Homo sapiens: one gene and its partners. The protein of the gene in region 1 purifies or fractionates together with the protein of each later gene. This does not show direct contact. Each region holds a gene or a part of one and is shown in the gene's direction. Other genes may lie near its edges. The genes, in order: BRSK1, AKAP10, HADHA, NINL, ACO1, CPVL and NT5DC2.

Region 1 (3,500 bases):
AGCCTCCTGGGAGTTGTAGTCCACTCGCTTATCTCAGTCTCCTGTCCTCTGCAGAGTCCGGTCTTTTCCTTTTCACCGGAGCCGGGGGCTGGAGATGAGGCTCGAGGCGGGGGCTCCCCGACTTCCAAAACGCAGACGCTGCCTTCTCGGGGCCCCAGGGGTGGGGGCGCCGGGGAGCAGCCCCCGCCCCCCAGTGCCCGCTCCACACCCCTGCCCGGCCCCCCAGGCTCCCCGCGCTCCTCTGGCGGGACCCCCTTGCACTCGCCTCTGCACACGCCCCGGGCCAGTCCCACCGGGACCCCGGGGACAACACCACCCCCCAGCCCCGGCGGTGGCGTCGGGGGAGCCGCCTGGAGGAGTCGTCTCAACTCCATCCGCAACAGCTTCCTGGGCTCCCCTCGCTTTCACCGGCGCAAGATGCAGGGTATGGGGGCATGAACTGCCGAGTCCTAATGTGGGGAGAGGTTGGGGCTAAAAATCTGGTTCCAGGGATGTCCGTCTGGCGTGTCTAGAGAGGAAGGGACTGGGGGCCTGGATTCCCACGTTCTAGAGAAGAGGGGGTTTGAAGCAGAGGTGCACCTGTTGGGGAGAGAGGTGGGGCCTCTAGCTCTGGAGGAGGACCCCGATTGAAGGGCACGCGCCTTTGGGGCTCTGGATTACCTCCCATTGGCCCGTGGTTTGTGAGCCCCGCCCAGGAGGGATGGCTTGGCCGAGGCTGCAACCCAAGGCTCTGGAACCCTGGGAGGGGGCGAGTGCAGGCCTGTGTGCTGGCAACTGGGATGATGCACAGGTGTTGACCACGTTCTCTGCCTTCCCCCTACCAGTCCCTACCGCTGAGGAGATGTCCAGCTTGACGCCAGAGTCCTCCCCGGAGTGAGTCTCACAGGGAAGGAAAGAGTGGGGATGCAGGGGATTCATGCCCTCGGCGCCTTCCTAACCCTCCTCCAACCACCCCCTCCCACTCAGGCTGGCAAAACGCTCCTGGTTCGGGAACTTCATCTCCTTGGACAAAGAAGAACAAATATTCCTCGTGCTAAAGGACAAACCTCTCAGCAGCATCAAAGCAGACATCGTCCATGCCTTTCTGTCGGTGAGGGGCCTGGGTCCCCATCGAGCCTGGCCCCCGCAGAACTACAAGTCCCAGCAGCCCCTGGGGCTAACCACCTTAGCATAGGCCTGGCTTCCTCCTGGGGCTCATGGGATTTGTAGTTTTATGGCCAGAGTTGGTTAGAAGTCGGTAGGCAGGAAAGATTTATCGTGGCCAGAGGCCTGGAATTGGGGAAATAGGATCCTGAATTGCAATGTCCTCAAGGATTGGTGAGTTCCCATTCCCCTACTGCGAGGTTTGAAACTAGCCGAAGAAACTTCCCAGGCAATGTTAAGGCTGCCCCATTGCTGGTCTGTGGTTTTATGCCTACGGGTGGATGGGACTTAGAGTTTCTGTGACAGATATGGCTATGGGAAGCATTTGTAAAGGGAGCAAGCAGTGTTTCATGTGGTCTTGGAGTCTGAGGCTGTCACCTAGCTATCAGAGTCCTCATGATGTTAGGGGGATGTCCAACCATTCCTCCCTTACTCGCTGATAGGATAGAGAAAGCTACAAGTCCTTGCAGGCAGTGGGGCCTCCCAATGCATTTCCTGTCCTTCTTTCCCTCCAGTGGCTCATGGGACTCGTAGTTCCTTGGCCAGAGCTGGTCGTGGGGCTGGGTATCCATTTCCTGGGCTCACCCCTTCCTGTGTTCCTACCTCGCTCAGATCCCCAGCCTGAGTCACAGTGTGCTGTCACAGACCAGCTTCAGGGCCGAGTACAAGGCCAGTGGCGGCCCCTCCGTCTTCCAAAAGCCCGTCCGCTTCCAGGTGGACATCAGCTCCTCTGAGGGTCCAGAGCCCTCCCCGCGACGGGACGGCAGCGGAGGTGGTGGCATCTACTCCGTCACCTTCACTCTCATCTCGGGTGAGTCTCTTGGCTAGGCTGCCTGCAGCCCAGTGCTGGGACTGTTCACGACAGCTGAGACAGTGTAGGGGCCCAGGAGTGCAGCAGCAGGAGGAGGAAATGGTGTTCAGCTGGTGCCGACTCTCTGTGCTCCTCCTGCCCACACAGACCGCCCCACAAGCCCATCCTCTATTTCCCCACTCTCATCAGCATTTCCCTGGCATTTACAGTGTAAATAATGAATGCATTATCTCCTTGAAGCTTCCAAGCAGCCTACTGAGGTGTTAGTAATCACCCATTTTACGGAGGAGAAAACTGAGTCATAGGGAGGTCAATGGACTTGGCCAGAGTCACACAATACACTGTCGCAGAGCTGCAGCCCAACCCAGGCCTCCCAACTTCAGAGGAGAGAGCCCAGCTCTTCCTATTACTTTAAGATGGTAGAGCCAAAGGGTGAAGACACAGCACACTGCTGTCTAATATCAGTCTGCCCAGAGCAGACATTACCAATTGATGGCAGTGCTTATTCCTGCTAAGCTCAGTGGCAGCCTCAGGAACTTGAACTCCAGGCAGCCATGACCAGTCGAGGCTTGGCACAAGAAAGGAAAACCACTAAAATACCTTGCTTCCAGTTCTGCTTTCTGTTTGGTCCCTCCATCCTGATAGTGAGCATTTGGATAGGGAGGGATATCGCCGATCTCTTTGTCACCAATATTAATATGTCACAGGTGGGAGAGGGGCTTGCCCCAAAGATTTCTAAACCAAACGGCTGTGGAACTGTGGGTGTTCCGTCACCAAAACCAATTATGACTCTTTATTTTTCTGTCCCCCTTAAAGACTAACATGCAGGCTGGGCGCGGTGGCTCACGCCTGTAATCCCAGCACTTTGGGAGGCTGAGACGAGCAGGTCAGAAGTTCAAGACCAGCCTGGCCAACATGGTGAAACCTGTCTCTACTAAAAATACCAAAATAAGCCTCGCGTGGTGGTGGGCTCCTGTAATCCCAGCTACTCAGGAGGCTGAGGCAGGAGAATCGCTTGAACTCAGGAGGCAGAGGTTGCAGTGAGCCAAGATTGTGCCACTGCACTCCAGCCTGAGCGACAGAGCGAGACTCTGTCTCAAAAAAAAAAAAAAAAAAGGCTAATATGCAGACCTTTCTCAATTTTAAGACTTTTTCTGAGGCCAGGCATGATGGCTGACTCCTGTAATCCCAGCACTTTGGGAAGCCGAGGTGGGAGGATTGCTTGAGCCCAGGAGTTTGAGACCAGCCTGAGCAACATAATGGACCTCATCTCTACAAAACAAACAAAAAAATTTATACACACACACACACACACACACACACACACACACACACACAATTTAAAAAAAAAAAAAAAGCCCAGCACGGTGGCATGCACCTGTAGTCCCAGCTACTCCAGAGTCTGACGTGGGAGGATCACCTGATTCCAGGAGGTTGAGGCTGCAGTGAGCCGTGATCGCGCCACTGCACTCCAGCCTGAGTGACAGAATGAGACCTTGTCTCAAAAGAAAAAAGAAAAAGAAAAGACTTTCTCCGATTTCTTTTT
Region 2 (3,500 bases), on another chromosome or scaffold:
CCATGTTGGCCAGGCTGGTCTTGAACTCCTGACCTCAAGTGTTCCACCCAACTTGGCCTCCCAAAGTGCTAGGATTACAGGCGTGAGCCACCGTGCTCAGCCATTTGCGTGATTTTTAAAGATGTGCAGAATAATGCCATTAAAAAAAATACACATACATGTATATATATACACGTTTGGCTGGGTGTGGTGGCTCACACCTGTAATCCCAGCACTTTGGGAGGCTGAGGCAGGAGGATCACTTGAGCCCAGGTGTACAAGACTAGCCTGGGCGAGATAGCAAGACCCCATCTCAACAACAGAAAGGATAATTAGGTATGGTGGCATGAGAGGATCACTTGAGCCCAGGAGTTCGAGTGTTATCAGGCCACTGCACTCTAGCCTGGACAACAAAGCAAGACCGTGTCTCAAAAAAATAAAAATAAAAAGTATTTGTATGTGGTCATAGTCAAAAAACGTACATGGAAGGAAAATGTCTTTATTTATTTATTTATTTTTTTTTTTTTAAGACAGAGTCTTGCTCTGTCACCCAGGCTGGGGTACAGTGGTGTAATCTCAGCTCACCGCAATCTCGGCCTCCCGGGTTCAAGCGATTCTTCTGCCTCAGCCTTCTAAGTAGCTGGGACTACAGGTACCCGCCACCACACCCTGCTAATTCTTGTGTTTTCAGTAGAGACAGGGTTTCACCATGTTGGCAAGGCTGGTCTCGAACTCCTGACCTTAAGTGAGCCACCCGCCTTGGCCTCCCAAAGTCCTGGGATTACAGGTGTGAGCCACTGCGCTTGGCCAGGAAATATCTAATTTAGTAAGTATTTATATCTGGGAAAGGAAGGGTCAGGTGGTGATTCATAGGAACTCTAAAGTCTATGTATAATACTTAGGGGGACAGAAGGAAATAAAGCAAAATGCTGATATTTGATTGTTGAGTTGTGTATATGTTAGAAGTATAACATAGGAGATCTGATTGATAGTAGGAGAATGTTTTTAGGTGGTAAAAGTGGAACCGTGGTGGTTTGTTTTGGCAGTAGAATCAGTTGGTCATAGTTTGTATGTGGAAGGTAATAAACAGACCATGTTAAGGATGACTTCCGGAATTTTGGTCTGAGTAGTGGGTGGATGACAGTGTCATTCATGAGGGAAGATGAAGACTGAGGTAGGAACAGGTTTGGGAGAAGATGACATGTTCCCTTTTAGACAAGTGGAATTATGGAAGATGGCAGGTAGGTGGTTAGCTATATGAATTTGAGATAAAAGATTTAGGATGGAGATATAAATTTAGGAGTAACAGCGTATCTATGGTATTGTAAGCCTTAAGAATGGGTAGGATCAGCCAGGAAATACAGATGTATATGCAGAAGAGAGGAGTCAAGGAAGCCAAGACAAGTTAATGTTTAAAGTGAGTGATGTAGTCCATGGGCAGATGCTGCTGAGAGGGCTGCAAACACCAGTGACCCTACAACATTTTTAAATGTCGTCTTCCTGACAGCAGTGATCAGTACCTGCAACGATCTTATTTATTTTTTTCATGTTAGTCTCCACACACTTGAATGTAGACTTTTTGAAGGCAAAATCATTGCCTTTTCTGAGCTGGGAGCATGTCTGGCACATACCAAGCACTCAACAGTTGATGTATTGACTTCATCCAGATACTCTGAGGGCGAGTTATTTCCTGCTACTAGCCTTTCACCTTTCAATGTTTAAGAGCACAAATACAGAGATGGGCACGTTTTGGCATTTCTTATTTTGATAACCTTTTCCTGGTAAGATTTTTTAATGTTGAAAAAAAAAAACAAGAAAAGAGGGTTAAAAATAGTCTTATGTCAGATCCTGTGATAGAATTCACACTTGGCTTAAGCTGCTGGGCACCTTCCTATCTTGGATGTCATATTAGCTTATCTACAGCAGAATTTTTACTGTTTTATGTAGTAAGGAAGCAATTATATGATTATTTTACAGACAAATTATTCTTTATCTTTTATTTTTTTAGACGGAGTCTCTCTTTGTCTCCCAGGCTGGAGTACAGTGTCGCGATCTCGGCTCACTGCAACCTCCGCCTCCTGGGTTCAAGCAATTCTCTGCCTCAGCCTCCCAAGTAGCTGGGCTTACAGGTGTCCGCCACCACACCCAGCTCATTGTTTTGTATTTTTAGTAGAGATGGGGTTTCACCATGTTGGCCAGGCTGGTCTTGAGCTACTGACCTCAGGTGATCCACCCGCCTTGGCATCCCAAAGTGCTGGAATTACAGGCGTGAGCCACCGTGCCTGGCCCAGACAAATTATTATACTCTGAGTGTTAGAGGCTTAGGATGTTTTCACTTGATGCTATGGGAGGAATAAGTAATAAGATATGATACACAACCAAAGACCTTTCTTCACTATGCTTCTAGTAGCTAGTACTATGGATGACACATGGTAATAATATTGGTTAGCATTTGTCCTCAATTTACTGTGCTAGTTACTCTTCTAAGCCCCTTACAGGTATATATTTTTTTTCATCAATAATCCTCTAAGGTAGTTTTTATTATTGACCTAATTTTATAAATCAAGAAAATTAAGACCCAGAGAAGTAAGTAACTTGTCCAAGATCACATGGCTTATAAGTGGTAGAGCCAGAATTTGACCCCAGATGTTGTGACTACATTGTCTCTCCATAAGCAGGTTCAACTCTTTTGACTGGATGCTGTTCCAAGGTCACTTCCTTAGAGAAGCCTTTGCTGACAACTACCCTCCTGTGCCCTCCTCCAAGGCTGTCCATTGTTCTAGAACTTTGAATACTCATCTTAGAATAAAGCTGGTCTAATTTTTACAGTGTTATAGAATGGATCTCTGACTGCAAAAGTTGGTCATAATTATCTTTTTATGTTCTAGTGAAAGGCAAAGAACAAGAGAAGACCTCAGATGTGAAGTCCATTAAAGGTAAGTTCTGCCCTTGGCAGTCCACTGCATTAAAAAGTGATGTGCTTTGCATTTGTGAGTTCTTTAATCCTGTTATACTCTCTCTTTTGGCATTAATCATTTCTGCCTTATTTTATAATTACTTATGATTTTGATTTATTTCCCTCTTTAACCTGTATAATGCTTTAACATCTAGCATATAATAAGTAGGCTTTTTTTTTTTTTTTTTTTTTGGAGACGGAGTCTTGCTCTGTTACCCAGGCTGGAGTGCAGTGGCGCGATCTTGGCTCACTGCAAGCTCTGTCTCCCGGGTTCACACCATTCTCCTGCCTCAGCCTCCCCAGCAGCTGGGACTACAGGTGCACGGCGCCACGCCTGGCTAATTTTTTGTATTTTTTAGTAGAGACAGAGTTTCACCATGTTAGCCAGTATGGTCTCGATCTCCTGACCTTGTGATCCGCCCGCCTCGGCCTCCCAAAGTGCTGGGATTACAAGCGTGAGCCACCGCACCCGGCCGTAAGTAGGCTTTTTTTACCTTAATTTTATTTTTTTGAGATGGAGTCTTGCTCTTATCCCCAGGCTGGAGTGCAGTGGTGCCATCTCGGC
Region 3 (3,500 bases), on another chromosome or scaffold:
GTCACCCAGCCTGGAGTGCAATGGTGCGCTCTTGGCTCACTGCAACCTCCGCCTCCCGGGTTCAAGTGATTCTCCTGTCTCAGCCTCCAGAGTAGCTGGGATTACAGGCTCCTGCCACCACGCCCAGCTAACTTTTTTTTTGTTTTTTTTTTTTTGTTGTTGTTGTTGTATTTTTAGTAGAGACGGGGTTTCGCCATGTCAGCCAGGCTGGTCTCTAACTCCCGACCTCAGGTGATCCAGCCACCTCAGCCTCCCAAAGTGCTGGGATTACAGGCGTGAGCCACCGCGCCCGGCCATAGATTGTGTATTTTTAAATTTGATTCTCACTTCCTTAATCTCGTCGCTTCTCCCAGTGTTGAATCTTGAGAAAAGCTGTTGATTATTACAACCAAAGTAATGTTTTCAAATTTGAAATTTATGTTAGCATAATCCAGCTCTCTTCGCTGACTGTAGTCTTATGAGGTTTTGTAGTTATTCTTGGGTTACATTACAAAGATGATTAAAAAGTGGGGCAAAGGTTTCTCTCTACTTTGCTGGCACAGTAGATGTAGGCTAAAGTTCACTCAGCTGCCATAGGGTAAGCTCTGCAGTTAGGTAGTGAGTAAGGCTAGACTCCAAAAGCAAAGCTACCTTGCAGTGTGACTTGATTTGGTTGACTCTGGTTTGGAATTATTTTCGAAGTATGTTCATGTATATACTGGTTTTCTATTTGTTTCTATTTGTCTTGATCTTGGAGAGGTTTTGTGTATGAGTGTGTGGGCAGCATAGGTAGGTTAGTGGACAGGAGTTAAAATGGTTTAAACTGTTGGCTAATGACCACTAACCTGTTATCTCAAATATTTGATCTTTAAAACTGCAACCCAGTGGGGCATAGTGGCACATGCCTGTAATCCTAGCTACTCCGGAAGATTACTTGAGCCCAGGAGTTCAAGACCAGCCTGGGCAACATAGGGAGACCTCGTCTCAAAGAAAAAAAATGTTTTTGAAATATTGCAACCCATGCTCACTCTATTTCCTTTTTTTGCTTAGGTGCTTATTTTCTAACATATTTGTGTTTCTTGGTTTTTCCCTCTCAACCTGCATTCCCAATCAGTTCATTCCCACTCTAATCCACTTTACCCTGTTTTGCTAGAATTACCTATCCCCTTCTTCCCTTCCCACTGGAATTTCTACTTTGCAGGAAAACTTTTTCTATGCCAGGCCTATTTTCACTTTTCATTTATCTTCACTGAGTAGGAACTGATTCTTCCCAGATATCATATCCCCTGCTGACCTGGAATGTAAGCTCCACCAAGACAGGGATTTTTGTCTTTTTTGTTCACCCTGAATGTCCTGCTGTACTCCAAGTGCCTAGAACAGTGAATGGCACATGGAGGTCACAATATATGTTTTTGTTGAATGAATAACAGATTATGTTGGAAAAGATTACAATGTGGTTGGTGAAACACCTGCTACAGATGCAGCAGTTAGAGGACAGAACATTAAATAATAAAATAAAAATGCAGGCAAGGAAAGGAAGGATCACTGTAGACAGAATCCGAAGATGAGGTTTTGTGGAAAAGAGTGGAGTCATGATGCAAATATAAAGAAGGAAGAGTGGTAAATACAGATGACACAGATTTCAAATGATGGAAAAGCAAAGCAGGAAACATACTATTAGTCAAGTAGAGGCACTGGGGATTGAGGAGATGGCTGGCTTCTCCCATCTTAAAACACTGAAGTTCACTTGTAAGAGACTTGTTCACAGTCACACAGCTAGTAAATAAACCTGATGGTTGAACACAAGTCCTTTGCCTTTGCACTAAGTCGGCTGGCTTGGATTGCTTAAAGAAGAAATGCAGGCAGAACCTGAAATCACCCCATTCTGCTTCTGGTGCTAACCACAGTTTTCTTTCTTTTTTTTTTTTTAATGTGTCACCTTGCCTTTCCAACCAGTATAAAGCTGCTATTTTTTGTGCCTTCTCTTCCCTTTCCATAAGGAACTGGGGGATAAAGAGAAAATACGGAGGCAGCAAGAGCCTTGGCAACCTACTGATGATCCTCCCCTATTCCACTCCACCTTCACTGGGTTCTCCAGTCAGTAGTTCCCATGTGCCTCTTACATTGCTATCTCTTTGGTTCTCTTTGCTTCCCTCTTCCCTTTTGTGATTACACTGGGCCCACCTGGATAATCCATGATAAACTTTCTTTATTAAGGCCAACTGATTAGCAACTTTAATCCCCCCTTTGCCGTGTAACCTAACATATTCACAGGTTCTGGGGATGTATATCCCTTTGTGGGGGCCAGTCTTCCTCTTTTAGTATCCAAATAATCATCTGACCTAACAACTGAAATGGAAAAAATATGGCAGTAGTCATATGGCCTAGAATACATTGTACAGATTTGGGGTTTTTGTTGTTGTTATTATTGTAAATTACAGCTTTGTTATATATAAAAGGTACTACAGAAATTGTTTCGCAAATTAATTTTGAAATGTCTTTTCTTACAGGTTATATATGCCGCAATTTTACAGGGTCTTCTGCTTTGCTGAGTAAGTTTAATTTCTTTTTAATGTGTATGCTTACATTGCTTTTTGGATTTATGTTGCAATAAATATGTTTACAAATAAATCTTTCTTTTCTTTTTAGCCAGAACCCATATTAACTATGGAGTCAAAGGGGATGTGGCAGTTGTTCGAATTAACTCTCCCAATTCAAAGGTATCTCATTTAATTTGCAGTTTTTTTCTGCTAACCGCATTATGAATCTAGTCCTGAATGGGAAAGATGTATCCCATATTTCCCCAAATCTACCAATCTGGCAGTAATCTTACATGAATTTACAGTTTTGACAGTTATGTTAAACTTTGACAGATTGCCAAGGGAGCCAGTTTTCTAAAGCAGAGGTTCTTGCGTAAGAATTCCTCTTGTTGACCTTAGGTGCCACCAGCCTCCTGGTTATAGTGTAGAATGAGGAGGTGACTTATTAGAGAAGAACCAGAGTACAAGCTTTGTTTATAAGACTCAAAATTTGCCTACCCATCTTAAATATGAGGTTGTTAATCCATTTTCTTCATTACTTGCCTGACATAAGTCACTATTCATAGTAAGTTGGCTGAGTGAAATGTGGATACTTGGCTCTTAAGCTTCCTGAGGGATCTGAATGACTCAATGCAATTCACATATTGGAAATCAAGTTCTGTTCGAATTGAAACTTCTTTTGTTTTTGGCAGCTTCAATAAAGTGTGTAACAGTAATCCATTCTTTTGCCAAGAAGAGCTTTATTGTGAGAGTCCATGCTTTTCCCCCATCTAAATTTGGTGTATTCTTACTTTAAAAATCTTGTAGCCAGGCTGGGCACTGTGGCTCACACCTATAATCCCAACACTGGATGGCCGAGGCAGGAGGATCACTTCAGCCCAGGAGTTTGAGACCACCCTGGGCAACATAGCAAGACCTTGTCTCTATAAAAAATAAAAAATAGTTGGGTATGGTGATGTTCACCTGTAGTGCTAGCTACTC
Region 4 (3,500 bases), on another chromosome or scaffold:
TAATGTCACATAGTCTCTGTTAGAGGCCAGTATTGTGCCATCCACAGTAGGTATCTGACTTTTGTGCTCTGGTTACTTCTGAGACCTGTATCTTTAGTGGTTTTTATTTGCTGTGTGCATTTCTTTCTTTTTAACTTTTTATTTATTTATTTATTTATTTTTTTGAGACGGAGTCTCACTCTGTTGCCCAGACTGGAGTGCAGTGGTACAACCTCAGCTCACTGCAACCTTTGCCTCCCAAGTTCAAGCAATTGTCCTGCATCAGCCTCCCAAGTAGCTGGGATTACATGTGCCCACCACCATGCCCAGCTGATGTGTGTGTGTGTGTGTGTGTGTGTGTGTGTGTGTGTGTGTGTATGTGTGTATTTTTACTACAGACGGGGTTTCACCATGTTGGCCAGGCTGGTCTTGAACTCCTGGCCTCAAGTGATTTGCCTGCCTCATCCTCACAAAGTGCTGGGATTACATAAGGCCTGAGCCACCAGGCCTGGCCACTTTGTTTTATTTTATTTTATTTTATTTTATTTTATTTTATTTATTTTATTATTTTATTTTATATTTTATTTTATTTTATTCATTGTAGAGATAGTCTCTCACTATTTTGCCCAGGCTGGTCTCAAACTCCTGGCCTCAAGCGATCCTTCTGCCTCAGCCTCCCAAAGTGGATCCTCCTTGAAATTACAGGTGTGAGCCACCATGCCCAGCCTCTTTTTAACTTTTTATTAAAGTGTGATACACATAAGAAAATGTATATATTTGTACAATTAGGAGAATTGTCAACAAATTGAACACGTCTGTGTTACCAGCGCCCAGAACAAGAGATGGAATTCACCAGAGTCCCCGGGGTAACCACTTCTTACAGCATAGATTCAGTTTGCTTGTTTTTGTACTTTATGGAGAGGAATCATGCAGTGTGTACTCTTCTGTGTCTGACTTTCTTGGCTCAACCTGGTTGTGCGATTGATCTGTGTTGTTGCTGTAGTTCATACATTTGCATTGCTGTGTGGTATTCTGTTGTGTGAACATACCACAGTTTATTCTTTTCTCCTGTTGATGGGCATTTGGGTAGTTCCTAGTTTTTGGCTCTCACAAATGGAACTGCACTGAACGTTCTTGCATTTGTCTTTTGGAGCATTATGTTGGGCTGTACCTAGAAATGGGATTGTTATGTTGTGGGTATAGGCATAGTTTTCTTTTTGTTCATCCTACTTAGAAAACATTGTCCCAGCCAGGCACAGTGGCTCACACCTATAATCCCAGGACTCTGGGAGCCCAGGAGTTCAAGATCAGTCTGGGCAACATAAGGAGACTGTTTTCTACAAAAACTTAAGAAAAATTAGTCACACATGGTGGCACGCACCTTTGGTCCCAGCTATTTGGGAGGCTAGATGGGAGGATCACTTGAGCCTGGGAGGTTGAGGCTGCAGTGAGCTGAGATTGCACCACTGCACTCCAGCCTGGGCGGCAGAGCAAAAGGGAAAAAAAAAAAAAAAAGAAATATTTTCCCTGTTGAATGTATGGATTGCATTGGTGTCTCATGAAAATCTCTCAGCCATTACTATTAAAATATTGCCTCTCCGGAGGTTGCAGTGAGCCAAGATCGCGCCATTGCACTCCAGCCAGGGCAACAAGAGCAAAACTCCGTCTCAAAAACAAAAAAAAAGTATATATATATATATATATATATATATATATATATATATATATCCTCTCCTCCCACTATTTTCTTCAATTAGATATGTGACTGTTAGAGCATTTCACTTTATGTCTCAACCTCTCTTTTATATTTTCCATCTTCTGTCTGTATCACATTTGGGGTATTTTTTACATACCTATGTGTTCCAGGTCAGTATCTCTTTCTTTCAGCTCTGTGTAATCTGCTATTTAAACCATCCCATGAGTTTTTATTTTGACATTGACTTTTTGTTCATTTCTAAAAATTCTGTTTGGTCCTGTCTGATCATTGTCAATAGTTTCTTGTTGCTTGTTCATTGTTTGTTGCTGTCTTTTATTTATGTAAACATTTCATAACACTTATTTTTAGTTTGTGTCTAATAAGTCCAATACCTGCAGTTTCTAGAGGATTGAATTCTGGCTTCTGGCTTCTGCTGTCATTTATGGGTGGCTTTGCTCCATGTATGTTATGGTGATCTTTGATTGTGAGCTCATATTTGCTTGATGTTAATCTCTGGGAATATAAAGAGCCTTATATGGGATGCTATTGCTTTTGCAGAGAAGTGAGAAGGTGCTAATCTGGGACTGTCTGAACCTCCTTCCAGGGCCCTGTCTGGTGCAGGTGTCCACAGTGCAGCTTCTCCATTCTGCTAATAGCAGTGCTGACACATAGGCATTGGTTGCAAGGTCCCCCCAGCTTTGTGTTGCATAGTGCTCACGCGTTGGTTTCAGCTTCCAGGATTTTGTTTTGTTTGGAGATTCTTGCAGGTTTTCTTTTCTTTCCATGAGGACAGTCACAGAGGTTGCGATCAGCTTTGCGCAGGATCTAGTTGTTTGGTGGTCATGTGGGGGATGGGGTAGGGCACCCCTCAGCTTTCGGCCTTGCATCAACTTGTTCTCCATTCTAGAGCCAGAGTGATAGTTTAAAAACACAGAACTCTCCTGCTTGAAACCCTTTGCTGCCTTTAATTCCAGTGACTATTTATTTTTGTCTTTAGTTCCTCATGAGATAAAATGAAGGCATATGAAGAAGATACTTATGTTTACTATTATAAGTATAATACATAAAGCGGGCTGGGCGTGGTGGCTCACATCTGTGATCCCAGCACTTTGGGAGGCCTAGGTGAGAGGATCACCAGGAATTCGAGACCAGCCTGGGCAACCTATCGAGACCCCATCTCCACCACAACAAAAATTATCCAGGCGTGGTGGCGCATGCCTACTGTAGTCCCAGCTCCTGGGCCTGGGAGTTCAAGGCTGCAGTGAGCCATGATCGTGCCACAGTACTCCAGCCTGGGTGACAGAATGAGACCCCATCTCAAAGAAAAAACAAAAAAATACATGAAGTGAACATGGTGAGATCATGTGGCTTTCAGTATTTTCAGACTGAAAAAATAAGAAGCTAGTACCATATGGAGACCTATTTGGGGAATACACGTTAGCCTTACCAGTCAGTATTAAGAATGCATTCTCTGGGTAGCAAGTATGGGTCTTAAGCTACTTCACTGGTGATCTTTTTTGTTTTTTCACAGACAAGGTCTCACTATGTTGCCCAGGAGGGTCTCAAACTCCTGGGCTCAAGCAGTCTTCCTGCCTCAGCCTCCCCAGTAGCTGGGATTACAGATGCATGCCGCCACTCCTGGCTCCCATTAGTGATCTTCATTGGTAAATTGCCATCTTCATCTATCAAATCAATGGCATTACCCAAGCAGGGACTCCCTGAGTTGTCAGAGAACAAAGACGGCCCAGGCAGACTTGGTTCACATAGTGGCTGTCTATCCCTGCCTTTTCCCACTTTGAGATTCACCTAGCAGAGGTTTCCCATA
Region 5 (3,500 bases), on another chromosome or scaffold:
TATCTACACAATAAATAGTATCCAAAGCAAAGTTTTTAAAATCGAATGCACACTGCATAATAGTCTCTCTTGAGAATTAACACAGAAAATAAGTAGAGGAAAGCAAAGGAAGCTGGATTTCTGGGAAAGCCTACATTCTTGTGTCAGACTTTGGAAGAAAAATAAAGTGTTACCACAGACTTTGTTCTCCGTGAAACCCCTGAGCAGCAGGATTGAGTTCTGACGTGAATGCTGGGAGGTGTTTCTCAGTGAGGGCACAGGGCACTGGCTGATAAAACCTGGGGCCACTGGCCTGTTTCGCAATTCTGGTTGAGTTGTTAATATTTACATATGTGGTTTCCCTACTATAAGGTCTCTTTAGTTTCCAAGTTTTTAGTCATCCCCAAAGCTCCTCTTATATCCATCCACAGACCAGACAGTGTCAGCAGTTCCTTTCTATGAAGCAGACACGGGCATTAGGAAAGCCTTCTTTGCCTGAGTCCGTGTATTGCCACCTAAGCTTTCCTTGTCTGGTCTGGAGCAAACCAGTCTTCTGTAGACAAGTTACCAGCTTGTCTGTGGCTTTTTGTCCCCTCATGTCCCCACCCCCACTGCTCATGTTTTTGCTACTTCTGTGATACTTCCTAAGACAGAGCACCCAGTGTTCCAGTAGCAGTCTCTGTATCTGCCAAAGTCCAGCAGATCCTCCACTTCAAGATATATCTGAACACTCGATTTTTACTTCTTGGCTGACCGTTCCTTGCCAGCCAGCACACAGCTGATATAGTTTCAGAAAGGGCTCCTTCAATGATGATTTTCATCCAAATAAAACATAATTAGAAAGATGATTTTCCCTCTAAAAAAAAAATTAAAAACTCATTTTGTAATATATTCCTAAATGGTTTTACATTTATCTCTTTAAAAAAAAAGTAAGCAAATCTCTTTCTTCATTTCCTTGCCTAGCTTTGAGTTTACTGCATATATCTAAATGACCGTTGGCCAGGGAGCCTTTAGATTTCTGTTTGGCAGCAGAAACAGCAGATAGCGCCAACATGAAGGGAGCGTGGTCAGGTGGTGGCAGGAAATGCAGACTGAAGAAAATCAGGCTCTTTTCTGAAGTGTGCCTGGCACCTAGAGCAGGCAGCCTCCCACACTGCATCTGTGTTTACCATTTCACAGGATTGTTAGCAAAGAAAGCTGTGGATGCTGGCCTGAACGTGATGCCTTACATCAAAACTAGCCTGTCTCCTGGGAGTGGCGTGGTCACCTACTACCTACAAGAAAGCGGAGTCATGCCTTATCTGTCTCAGCTTGGGTGAGGGAGAGTTTTCTTTTGCACCATTGCTTTTGTTGAATTGTATCCCTCATGTATCTTGCTGTGTCACCTTGTAACAGATGTGAGATTATCTGATGATATCTAATTGCATAGTCGTTTATCAGTTGGTAGTTAGACTTAAACCCTTACATTCCATCTAAAGAGAGCCCTCTTGCCCTCTAGGGCACCTACCATGAATGGAGTTTGCAGGACTGGAAGTTGCTTTGGTTGAGTCAGTGAATGAGTGGAGAGTGAATGTGAAGGCCTAGGACATTACCACACACTACTGTTGACTTTATAAACACTGGACACTTAGGCCACACTAACTTAATAAAAAAAAGTTTCTTTCTTCAATAATGTAAACCGTAGCTTACTTTTATTTTACAAACTTTTAAGTTTATTGAAACTCTTGACTCTTAAAACACTTAGCTTAAAACAAACATATTGTATAGCTGTTCCAAAATATTTTCTTTATATCTTTATTTCATAAGTTTTTTCCTATTTTTGAAGTTTTTATTTTTTTACTTTTTAAACTTTTTTGTTAAAAACCAAGACAGGCTGGACCCAGTAGCTCACACCTGTAATATCAGTGCTTTGGGAGGCCAGGGCAAGAGGATTGCTTCAAGCCAGGAGTTTGAAACTAGCCAGGGCAACATAGTGGGACCCCTGTTTCTACAAAAAAAAAAAATGTAAAACAATTAGCCAGGCATGGTGGTGCATGCCTGTAGTCCCAGCTTCTCGGGAGGCTGAGGCTGCAGGATGGCTTGAGCCCAGGAGTTTGAGGTTGCAGTGAGCTATGATCACGCCACTGTACTCCAGTTTGGGTGACAGCAAGACCCTGTCTCAAAAAAAAAAAAAAAAAACCTAAGAGATAAACACACACTTTAGGCCTACACCGGGTCAGGATTGTCAGTATTACTGTCTTCTACCTCCACATCTGTCCCACTGGAAGGTCTTCAGGGGCAATAACATCCATGGAGCTGTCATCTCCTGTGATAATAATGCCTCCTGGAATACTTCCTGAAGAACCTTCCTGAGGCTGTTCTACACTTAACTGGTTTGCTTTTTTTTTTAATAAACAAAAAGAGTACACTCTAAAAGAACAATAAAAAGTCAGCATGGCTGGGCGCGGTGGCTCATGCCTGTAATCCCAGCACTTTGGGAGGCTGAGGCAGGCAGATCACGAGATCATGAGATCGAGACCATCCTGGCTAACACGGTGAAACCCCGTCTCTACTGAAAATACAAAAAAACAAAATTAGCCGGGCGTGGTGGCGGGCACCTGTAATCCCAGCTACTTGGGGGGCTGAGGCAGGAGAATGGCATGAACCTGGGAGGTGGAGCTTGCAGTGAGCAGAGATAGCGCCACTGCACTCCAGCCTGGGCAACAGAGCGAGACTCCGTCTCAAAAAAAAAAAAGTCAGCGTGAGTTTGTTTATACCAGCATCATCATAAACAAGAAATGCCTTGCACTGTGACATCACGATGGCTACAACATCACTAGGTGATAGGAATTTTTCAGCTATATACCACATATACATTTGGGTATATGTGGTCTATCACTAACAGAAACATTGTGCAGTGCATGAATGTATTCGTTGCCAAATACGCTTTCTCCAATTTCCATATTATTCCTGACTTATGACATATATTTTATTCATGTGCCTCATAAAATTCAAATCTCCTTAGGATTATACAATAATAGTAGTTAATGAAGATATGGCATATATGATTTCAACTTTTTTAAATTGTTGCTCATTCAATTTGATTCCTTTTTATAAGTTAAAAATATGAATAGTATTCTTATGTTATATATCAGAATGCTCTCAAGAATGAAACTTTTAGAAATAGCACTATACTGAACTTAGTTCATGCACTGCAATTCCTTTTTGAACAGTGGTCTCTGGAAACTGTGGCCAGCAGAAGGGCTCACTGAAAGTTATTCTTTTTTTGTGTGTGTGTGCTTCTCTCTTGGTGTCTAGGTTTGACGTGGTGGGCTATGGCTGCATGACCTGCATTGGCAACAGTGGGCCTTTACCTGAACCTGTGGTAGAAGCCATCACACAGGTAATTGCAGAGGTCCCTGCAGGTCTTCAGAGCAGTTGTTTCTTTTCATGTAATGTGACAAAAATGCTGATATTTTCAAGAAGGTCCATGGAAGCAGGGGATGTGGTTTAGAGTATGATCTTTTGAGTTTAGTTAAAAT
Region 6 (3,500 bases), on another chromosome or scaffold:
GGTTGAAATGTGTTTCAGTGACTGCAAAGGAAGACTCCAACAAATCCTGAAACCCAGGGGAATATAAATGTCAGAATCTCAAGCCTAAAATGATAAAGCCTGTTTGACGCTCTGATCCTTTAAAATGATTTAATTAATCAAAGAGTAGTAACTCAGAGCTGGAGAGTACTCTGGAGATAGGTCATCTACTGTCCCTATGCATTTACATGCACACACACACACACACACACACACACACACACACACACACACACACACACACACACATTTACTGGTGAGTGGAGAGGATGCCGAGCCCCAGGGGATAGCAATGAATTGCCGAAGGATACACAAATAGATTGTGGCAGGCTGAGGACTGGAATTGCTTCCCCCATTTCCACCACAGTATTTATCCTATGGTAATTTTCAGGCATTCTGTAAAAATCCTGGATCGTCTTAGATATTCTGCAAGATGTGAAATGACTGATCCTCTGTCCAGTATTACCTCCCTTTCCATGATGATTTTCTGAATCACAAAGTTCTTAGTTTCACAGGTCTTGACCACCCATGTTATTTTTTGACAACAACTGACTTTTTCTTTTTTTTTTTTTTTTTTTTGAGACGGAGTCTCGCTCTCTTGCCCAGGCTGGAGTGCAGTGGCAAGATCTCAGCTCACTGCAACCTCCACCTCCCAGGTTCAAGCCATTCTCCTGCCTCAGCCTCCCGAGTAGCTGGGATTACAGGCACTCGCCACCACGAATGGCTAATTTTTCTTATTTTTAGTAGAGACGGGTTTTCACCGTGTTGGCTGGGCTGGTCTCAAACTCCGGACCTCAAGTGATCCGCCCGCCTCGGCCTTCCAAAGTGCTGGGATTACAGCTGTGAGCCACCATGCCTGGCCAACAAATGACTTTTAACTCTTTCTAAAAGCAAAGTTATTCTTCAAGGTTGACTTTATATTCCCACTGGTGTTGAAGATAATTTCTAACAATGAGTTCCAAAAATGATGTGTGCATTCAGAATGACCCTGGCCTATGGTGCCCCATCTGGGTGAACAAATTAGAAAAAGACACCTCGGCCGGGCGCAGTGGCTCACGCCTGTAATCCCAGCACTTTGGGAGGCCGAGGCGGGCGGATCACGAGGTCAGGAGATCGAGACCACGGTGAAACCCCGTCTCTACTAAAAATACAAAAAAGTTAGCCGGGCGTAGTGGCGGGCGCCTGTAGTCCCAGCTACTCGGGAGGCTGAGGCAGGAGAATGGCGTGAACCCAGGAGGCGGAGCTTGCAGTGAGCCAAGATCGCGCCACTGCACTCCAGCCTGGGTGACAGAGCGAGACTCCATCTCAAAAAAAAAAAAAACAAAGAAAAAAAAAAAGAAAAAGACACCTCCTCTGTGGTGATGCAGTCCTGTGGGTTCAGGACGGGGCAGGCAGATGCCTCCATTGTGTGAGGATAAGAGGTGGCCACTTCTCCAGATGCAGCCCTGAGCCAGGCTCTCCAGCTCAGCGAGCAGAACTTTGGCTGGTTCCCTGTCCCTTTGCACCCCTTAGCCACAGGCATCGCATGGAGCTGCACAACCAGATGTGGGGCCCTGAGCAATGGTAGCATTGGTAGAGAATACTTACTACCACCTCCACCCACACCGCCTTCTATGGTGATAACCCTTTTCATTCTTGGCCTCTAGCCCCATGGCAATAGGAACTTGAATAAGTTCTTTCATGTTTGAAAAAGAATATGAATACAGGCCGGGGGCGGTGGCTTACACCTGTAATCCCAGCACTTTAGGAGGCCGAGGTGGGCAGATCACAAGGTCAGGAGTTCGAGACCAGCCTGATCAACATGGTGAAACCCCGTCTCTATTAAAAATACACACACACAAAAAAAAATTAGCTGGGCGTGGTGGCAGGCGCCTTTAATCTCAGGTACTCGGGAGGCTGAGGCAGGAGAATTGCTTGAATCCGGGAGGCAGAAGTTGCAGTGAGCTGAGATCTCACCACTGCACTCCAGCCTGAGTGACAGTGCGAGACTCCATCTCAAAAAAAAAAAAAAAGAATATGAATATAATAATTAGTCTATTTTCTCAAGCATTGAAGCATGGCCAGAAGGAATTGGCAAGTAGGAAGCATTGCAGGCTGACTGCTGGGAGCCAGTGTGTGCGTGGTTGAGTGTGCAGGCTCAGGAGTCGTGGCCTAATCATCTCATCTCTGACATTATTAGTGAGGTGTCCTCGGCAAGTTGCTTAAACTCATGTGTCTCAGTTTTCTCACCCATAAAATTAGAATAATAATACCTTATCTGATAAGAGACCTAAATTTGTACTTGATAGATTGTTTTTAACATGTGCTGACTTCATTTCTTTGAATTCTTTTGTAAGAACTCCTTACAACTTAATATCATCATCAACAACCCCCCTCCATGTCTTCAACCTCTTCTGTGACTATTTTCTTCTCTTCATCTTCTTGCTTTGCCAGAAACCTGGCTCTCCCCTGATGCTGCAGTCCCTGTGGTCCTCTTGAGTGGGGGCTGTTCTCTCTCTTAGCTTGTCTGTATCACTTGGTTCATAGGTGGAGTAGGTGTCTTCCTTGCTCATCATGTGACTTTCAGATCATGTTCCCTGCCTCCTCCTAAAGCATTGAGCTTTGACTCTCCTGTCCTCAGACAGGGCCTCTGACCACTTCCAACTGTGTCTGCCTACCAACCCCTGGTTACTCCCTCTCATTTGAATAGCTGAGCTCCTTCCTCCCTGTCACTCTCTGCAGCATTATTCTTGTCATAATTCCTGGTAACTGCAGGATCCACATTGACGATCCTTTTGGGACCTGGTCCTTGGTGCCTCAGCCTCCTCTTTTTCAATGATCTTGTTCTCCTCCTCATCTTAGCTGCTGATTCTCATACCCTAAAATGCTGGCAGCTGATCCACAATCACACATTCAAACATCTTTCTCCAACTACCACCTCCTGTCCGAATCTCTTCTGCTAATGTACTGATCTTACAGCCCTGCAACCTCACTACCTTTCAATCCATTGATCCTCCTGCCTCTCCACTATCTCTAACCCCCTCAAGTCTCCATTTCTCTAATTACCTGTCTTCAACCCAGGGTCAGTCATTCCATACATTTCCAAGCCCAAAGCTCTTTTGCATTTCTTCCAACTCCTTTGGCTGAACCACAGCCCTGGCTCAATCTGCCTCTCTGTCAGGCTGTGCTTGTCTCCACACAGCTGACAATGGCTGGAGGAAAGCATGCAACCATGCTGACTGCTCTCCCGCTCAGCTGGTGACTGGGTTTTTTAATGTCAGCCCAAAGATAACTTCCACCAGCTCCAGGAACCTGCATCTGCACCATATCCTGCGTCTTCTCTCCATGTCATCTGGTGAGCAGTTCATGATCCATGTTAAGGCACCCTTCCCACAAGGCTTACTCCCATAGGCAAGGCCTTTGAGCTTACTGTGTCCTCTGCCTGGAACCTTCCTTCCCCTAGATGTCTGCATGGCTCTATTCCTCTCATCCAATATGTCTTT
Region 7 (4,171 bases), on another chromosome or scaffold:
TGGTGATATGGACACAAAATATACAAAAGCAGACTGGAGAGAGCAAGCAGGGCCCCAGAAAGGGTCATAGGGCCCGCAGTGAGCAGCCTGAGCTGCCGCCTGTACAACCGGCTTTGGAGGGCCAGCCCGGAAGCCTCTTTCTCCTCCGGGTAGACTCCGCCCAAGCATGCACACACACAGGCTTGATGCTCGCTCCCGTTTCTACAGGAGGTTTTGACGGCTGGATGCTGCAGGGCATCCCCTCGCCTGGAGGAGGTTCACTTGTGGCCAGGTTCCCAGCACACCCACTTGCTCACTGGGGCCCTGGGGACACCGCCACACTCGAGCCCATCCTACGGCCTCAATCCTTACCAGTCCCCAGGCCATGGACTGCCACACTGTAGGTCTTCAATCAAGGTTCAGTGGAGTTTCGAATGTACACACACCCTGAAAGACAGCGCGGCCACCTCAGAAAACAACGCGCGCCCAGCTGGCTCCCCTCCGACAGGGCCCACGGCTACTGGGTCGGCCTCCTCCGGACCCTGAGCACAGCCTGGTATGCGTGCGGGCTCGGAATACGGATCTGAGCAGAAGAAATGCGAGTGGAGAGCGGTTCTGCGCAGGAAAGAGGAATTTTGTTGGAAAGCCTGTCGACGTTGCTAGAAAAGACCACAGCATCTCACGAGGGGCGTGCGCCGGGAAACCGGGAGTTGACGGGTCAGTGCGGCCAGTTGCCGAGGTCCGAACCAAGCGGGCGCAGTGACCGTGGCCCACAACCCTGCAGCGCACGGCCCAGTCACCTGGTTAGCGGACGTCGGCTGCCCTGCAGGCCCCTCGGCCTCCCCCAGCGTGGGCCTGGCACCGGGAAGCGCGGGAAGGGCTCTTTATTTGTTAGACCAGTGAGTGGACTGGCCCGGGCTCTGGTCAGTGGGCAGTCAGTCCGAGCCCAGAGACCGGGGACCAGGACCCCGGGAAAGGAGAGCACCAGGACTAGGGGGAGGAGCGGAGGATCTGGGGTCAGAAGCATCCAGAGGCGCAGGGTAGGGCGGGCGGACCCGGGAGCGGAGAGGGCGGCAGAGGACCCGGGGGCCCGGGGGGTACCCGTCGCGCTCCGGCTGTCTCCTCTCGGCGCCTCGGCCGTCCGGAGCCTCTCAGGGACGGCCGCTCTTAGGCCCGCTGACTTCCAGGGCTGGGGCCAGGGAAAGGCGCCGCCATCGCCGGCGTGACGGCCGAAGGGGGGCGCAGAGTCCTCCCGGACCGCGCCGGAGACTGGCTGGGGGAGGGGGCTGGGGAGCCCTCCCCGCCCCGCCCCGCCCCGCCGGGTCCGGGGCCTCCCGCCCCCCGGGCCGAGGGGCGCGCCCATTGGCAGGCCGGGCTCCGCGCGCCGCACCCATTGGCCGGCCGCCGTGAGGAGCACGAGGCCACCGTGGCGGGCGCGCAGTCGGAGGGCGGCGGGCGGCGGGCGGCGGGCTGGCCGAGGGCAGCGCGGGCGGCGGGCGGCGCGCGGTGGGCATGGCGGGTGCGGGGCTGCGGGCGGCCGCTCGGCGCTGGCTGCTGTGCGGAGGCCACGGCGGGCCGCGAGCCGCCTCGTCCTCGCCCTCCTGCCCTGGGTGCGGCCCCCCGGGTCCCGGCGCCCACTGCCCCGGCGTCCCGCGCTCCGCGCCCGCCCAGGCACCCACCAGCGGCGCCGACCTCAGCGCGCACCTATGGGCTCGCTACCAGGACATGCGGAGACTGGTGCACGGTGGGTGAGCCGGGGCGGGACGTGCGCCGGGGTGTCTTCCGCGTGGACTGATGGACGGACCGAGCCCCAGGGTGCCGCTCCTCCGGGGAAACACCCAGTGGGGCTCGCCAGGGCCCCGGAGCGCAAGGGCCGGGCGGCTTTTCGCGAGAAGCTCCGGCCGTTCATCCCGGGGGCCTCTGGGGCGCCCCGACGCCCGGGGGCGGGCGGGAGGTTTGTTCCCCGGCTCGGTCTGCAGGAGCTCGGGGCTCCTCGAGCGGCTGCCGGAGTGCTGGGCCCCCGCCGACTTCCTTCGGGGTCCCGCCTGCCGTGAAGCCGCGGTGGAAACGCCCCCAACCCCTTGTTCTCGGCCAACCCTTAGTTGGGGCGGGAGAGTGCTGTGGACAAAGCCAGCGAGCGGCGCCGGGCGGAACGGGCTCCTAGGGACGGCCGGACCAAAGGGGACACCGGTTGGACTTCCCAGACACACCTCGATGTCGCCCTGGAGGTCCGGCCCCCTCTCAGCCCGGGCAGCGAAGGCTGGGAGAAGCCAAGTCACCCCCGCCCCCTGGAGCCCAGACTAGGGCTGCAAAGGGCACTTAACCTCCCTGTCCCTGCTCTCTCCCTCTGAGAAATGGCGTGAGGAGGCTGAGGCCCCTTCTTGGAGGGGGCCGGCTGGGGCGCACTAGTGAGGCCCCAGAGCTGAGAGTGCTGGACATCTGCCTGCTTGTCTCCGTGGGTCTAGTGGGGCCCTGCTTCTGCAGCAGACAGATATGGTTTGGGTCGTGACCCTATCACTGACCAGTTGGGTGGTCCCCCAGCAAGTCTCACCCTCTCTCAAGCATGAAACGCAGTCCTGGGGCCTCTCTGTCCCAGGGTTGGGTGATGACTGGAACCAGGCCAAGCAGGGCAGGAGAGCTTCCGGAGGAACCCCCAGGGGTGACGTGGCTTTTGTTGTCTGATAAAACAAAGTAGCCCTGTCTGGAAGATTCTAACTGGCTAGACAGGGGTTTTCACTCCGGCTTTGTGGGGTGGCGGAGAATCACTTCTTGACCAGTAAAGGCAGGATGGTAAAGGCCCCTGAGGAATGGTCATTTTGAAGCCTTGGGCATCTGTCCACCCTCGAGGTCCCAGGTTGAGTTTGTGTCTGTGGAGGGGCGGCCCAGCGTTATTTAAGAAGTCTTTGCTCTGGGCCCGGAGAAGACCCTCAGAGTATCCTGAGAAGCCTGCCTTGGAGGTTTCAGGGAGGACTACGGGGATCTACTGGACATTGTCCTCCTGGGCCTGCCTGCATCTTTGGAGCCTCACAGCCCTCTAAGCTCCTCTTGTCATACAAGGAGCAAAGTCATTCCCACCAAGATCCCATGGTGAGCACCAGCAGGAGCCAGCTTCACACCTCTGGGCGCCGAGGTCCGCTTTGGGCTAATGCCCACGGGCTGAGAGCAGTGCAACAGGTCCCTCAGTCCCCCAGCCCCCACCCACCTGGCCTCAGTGTGGTGACATTGGGAGGCTAGGCTGAGAGGCAGAGTGATTAATGCAGGTGGGGTGACTTGAATGGTGATCTCAACCCCGGTGCCTGTTACTGGGTGGTTTGGAGCAAGTGACTTCACCTCCCTGAGCCCCAGTTTCTTCCTCCGGACGATGGGGGAATAAGTGGGACTGCCTCACAGGATGGGAGTGAGGATTGAACAAGACAAGCCTCTAAGGCATCCACAAGTGTCACGGCTGCTAGGGAGCAGTTGGCCCTGGGACCTGGCACCATGGGCAGGTGTGGGAGCTAGGGCTGAGGAGAAAGGAGGGCAATTGCTGGACATGCTGAGTGGGACACACCCTCAGCTGCCCCACCCCCACCCCCCACCCACACCACCTATGGAAGGGAACAGGCTTCTGTCGCCCCAGAGCCAAGGTTCTTCTAGTCTAGAAATCAGGCCAGGCCACCAGGCCCTGTGGCTGTTTCCACATCCTGCTTTGTTCCTGGGAGGACTGTCTGCCCCTGGGCCCCTGGGAACATCCTTAGGGGCAGAGGTGAAGGCCTGGACCTAACCAGGACTCTGTGCCAGCAAGGGGCTGCACTGCCGAGCAGACCCTCCCAGGTCTTCTGCACCAAGAGTCACAGTCACAGTTGGTATCCGGGAACTCAGGGCCATGGGAAGGGCAAGGCCCAGGGTCCTAGTGACACACCAGAACCCTGGGCCTTGAGGGGTGGCTCAGAAGCAGCTCCCTAGAGCGTTGCAGTCAACTGTCTCACTTGCATCCAAGTGAAGACTCCTGTCTACACCCACAGATCTTCGGAGCAGCCGCTCTGTGCTGGCCTGGGGAACCAGCCACACCTGATCCCCCACCCACACCCTGAACTTGGCTCCAAAGGAAAGGGGTGGGAATGGAGCCCTGTGTCCCCAGAGTGCCTCTGAGGCAAGTGCTCTGGGCACGGAGCACATCAGCGAGATGTCTGCCTCTTGAGTGCAGCAGCTG

The links.
Region 2: the proteins of BRSK1 (region 1) and AKAP10 purify together in Homo sapiens (tandem affinity purification; one large-scale study listed by IntAct). This does not show direct contact.
Region 3: the proteins of BRSK1 (region 1) and HADHA purify together in Homo sapiens (affinity purification with mass spectrometry; one large-scale study listed by BioGRID and IntAct). This does not show direct contact.
Region 4: the proteins of BRSK1 (region 1) and NINL purify together in Homo sapiens (affinity purification with mass spectrometry; one large-scale study listed by BioGRID and IntAct). This does not show direct contact.
Region 5: the proteins of BRSK1 (region 1) and ACO1 purify together in Homo sapiens (affinity purification with mass spectrometry; one large-scale study listed by BioGRID and IntAct). This does not show direct contact.
Region 6: the proteins of BRSK1 (region 1) and CPVL purify together in Homo sapiens (affinity purification with mass spectrometry; one large-scale study listed by BioGRID and IntAct). This does not show direct contact.
Region 7: the proteins of BRSK1 (region 1) and NT5DC2 purify together in Homo sapiens (affinity purification with mass spectrometry; one large-scale study listed by BioGRID and IntAct). This does not show direct contact.

The regions. Positions count from the first base shown.
Region 1 is NC_000019.10:55,304,497-55,307,996, forward strand, and holds part of BRSK1 (serine/threonine-protein kinase BRSK1), read left to right. Parts: intron 1-54; coding exon 55-424; intron 425-824; coding exon 825-873; intron 874-966; coding exon 967-1,090; intron 1,091-1,755; coding exon 1,756-1,954; intron 1,955-3,500. UniProt on the Homo sapiens protein: Serine/threonine-protein kinase that plays a key role in polarization of neurons and centrosome duplication. Phosphorylates CDC25B, CDC25C, MAPT/TAU, RIMS1, TUBG1, TUBG2 and WEE1.
Region 2 is NC_000017.11:19,967,829-19,971,328, reverse strand, and holds part of AKAP10 (A-kinase anchor protein 10, mitochondrial isoform 1 precursor), read left to right. Parts: intron 1-2,867; coding exon 2,868-2,915; intron 2,916-3,500. UniProt on the Homo sapiens protein: Differentially targeted protein that binds to type I and II regulatory subunits of protein kinase A and anchors them to the mitochondria or the plasma membrane.
Region 3 is NC_000002.12:26,238,133-26,241,632, reverse strand, and holds part of HADHA (trifunctional enzyme subunit alpha, mitochondrial precursor), read left to right. Parts: intron 1-2,489; coding exon 2,490-2,531; intron 2,532-2,628; coding exon 2,629-2,699; intron 2,700-3,500. UniProt on the Homo sapiens protein: Mitochondrial trifunctional enzyme catalyzes the last three of the four reactions of the mitochondrial beta-oxidation pathway.
Region 4 is NC_000020.11:25,470,532-25,474,031, reverse strand, and holds part of NINL (ninein-like protein), read left to right. Parts: intron 1-3,500. UniProt on the Homo sapiens protein: Involved in the microtubule organization in interphase cells. Overexpression induces the fragmentation of the Golgi, and causes lysosomes to disperse toward the cell periphery; it also interferes with mitotic spindle assembly.
Region 5 is NC_000009.12:32,426,143-32,429,642, forward strand, and holds part of ACO1 (cytoplasmic aconitate hydratase), read left to right. Parts: intron 1-1,158; coding exon 1,159-1,294; intron 1,295-3,276; coding exon 3,277-3,361; intron 3,362-3,500. UniProt on the Homo sapiens protein: Bifunctional iron sensor that switches between 2 activities depending on iron availability. Iron deprivation, promotes its mRNA binding activity through which it regulates the expression of genes involved in iron uptake, sequestration and utilization.
Region 6 is NC_000007.14:29,066,538-29,070,037, reverse strand, and holds part of CPVL (probable serine carboxypeptidase CPVL isoform b precursor), read left to right. Parts: intron 1-3,500. UniProt on the Homo sapiens protein: May be involved in the digestion of phagocytosed particles in the lysosome, participation in an inflammatory protease cascade, and trimming of peptides for antigen presentation.
Region 7 is NC_000003.12:52,531,058-52,535,228, reverse strand, and holds the start of NT5DC2 (5'-nucleotidase domain-containing protein 2), read left to right. Parts: upstream 1-1,371; 5' UTR 1,372-1,491; coding exon 1,492-1,723; intron 1,724-4,171. UniProt on the Homo sapiens protein: Promotes dephosphorylation of tyrosine 3-monooxygenase TH which decreases TH catalytic activity and leads to reduced synthesis of catecholamines including dopamine, noradrenaline and adrenaline.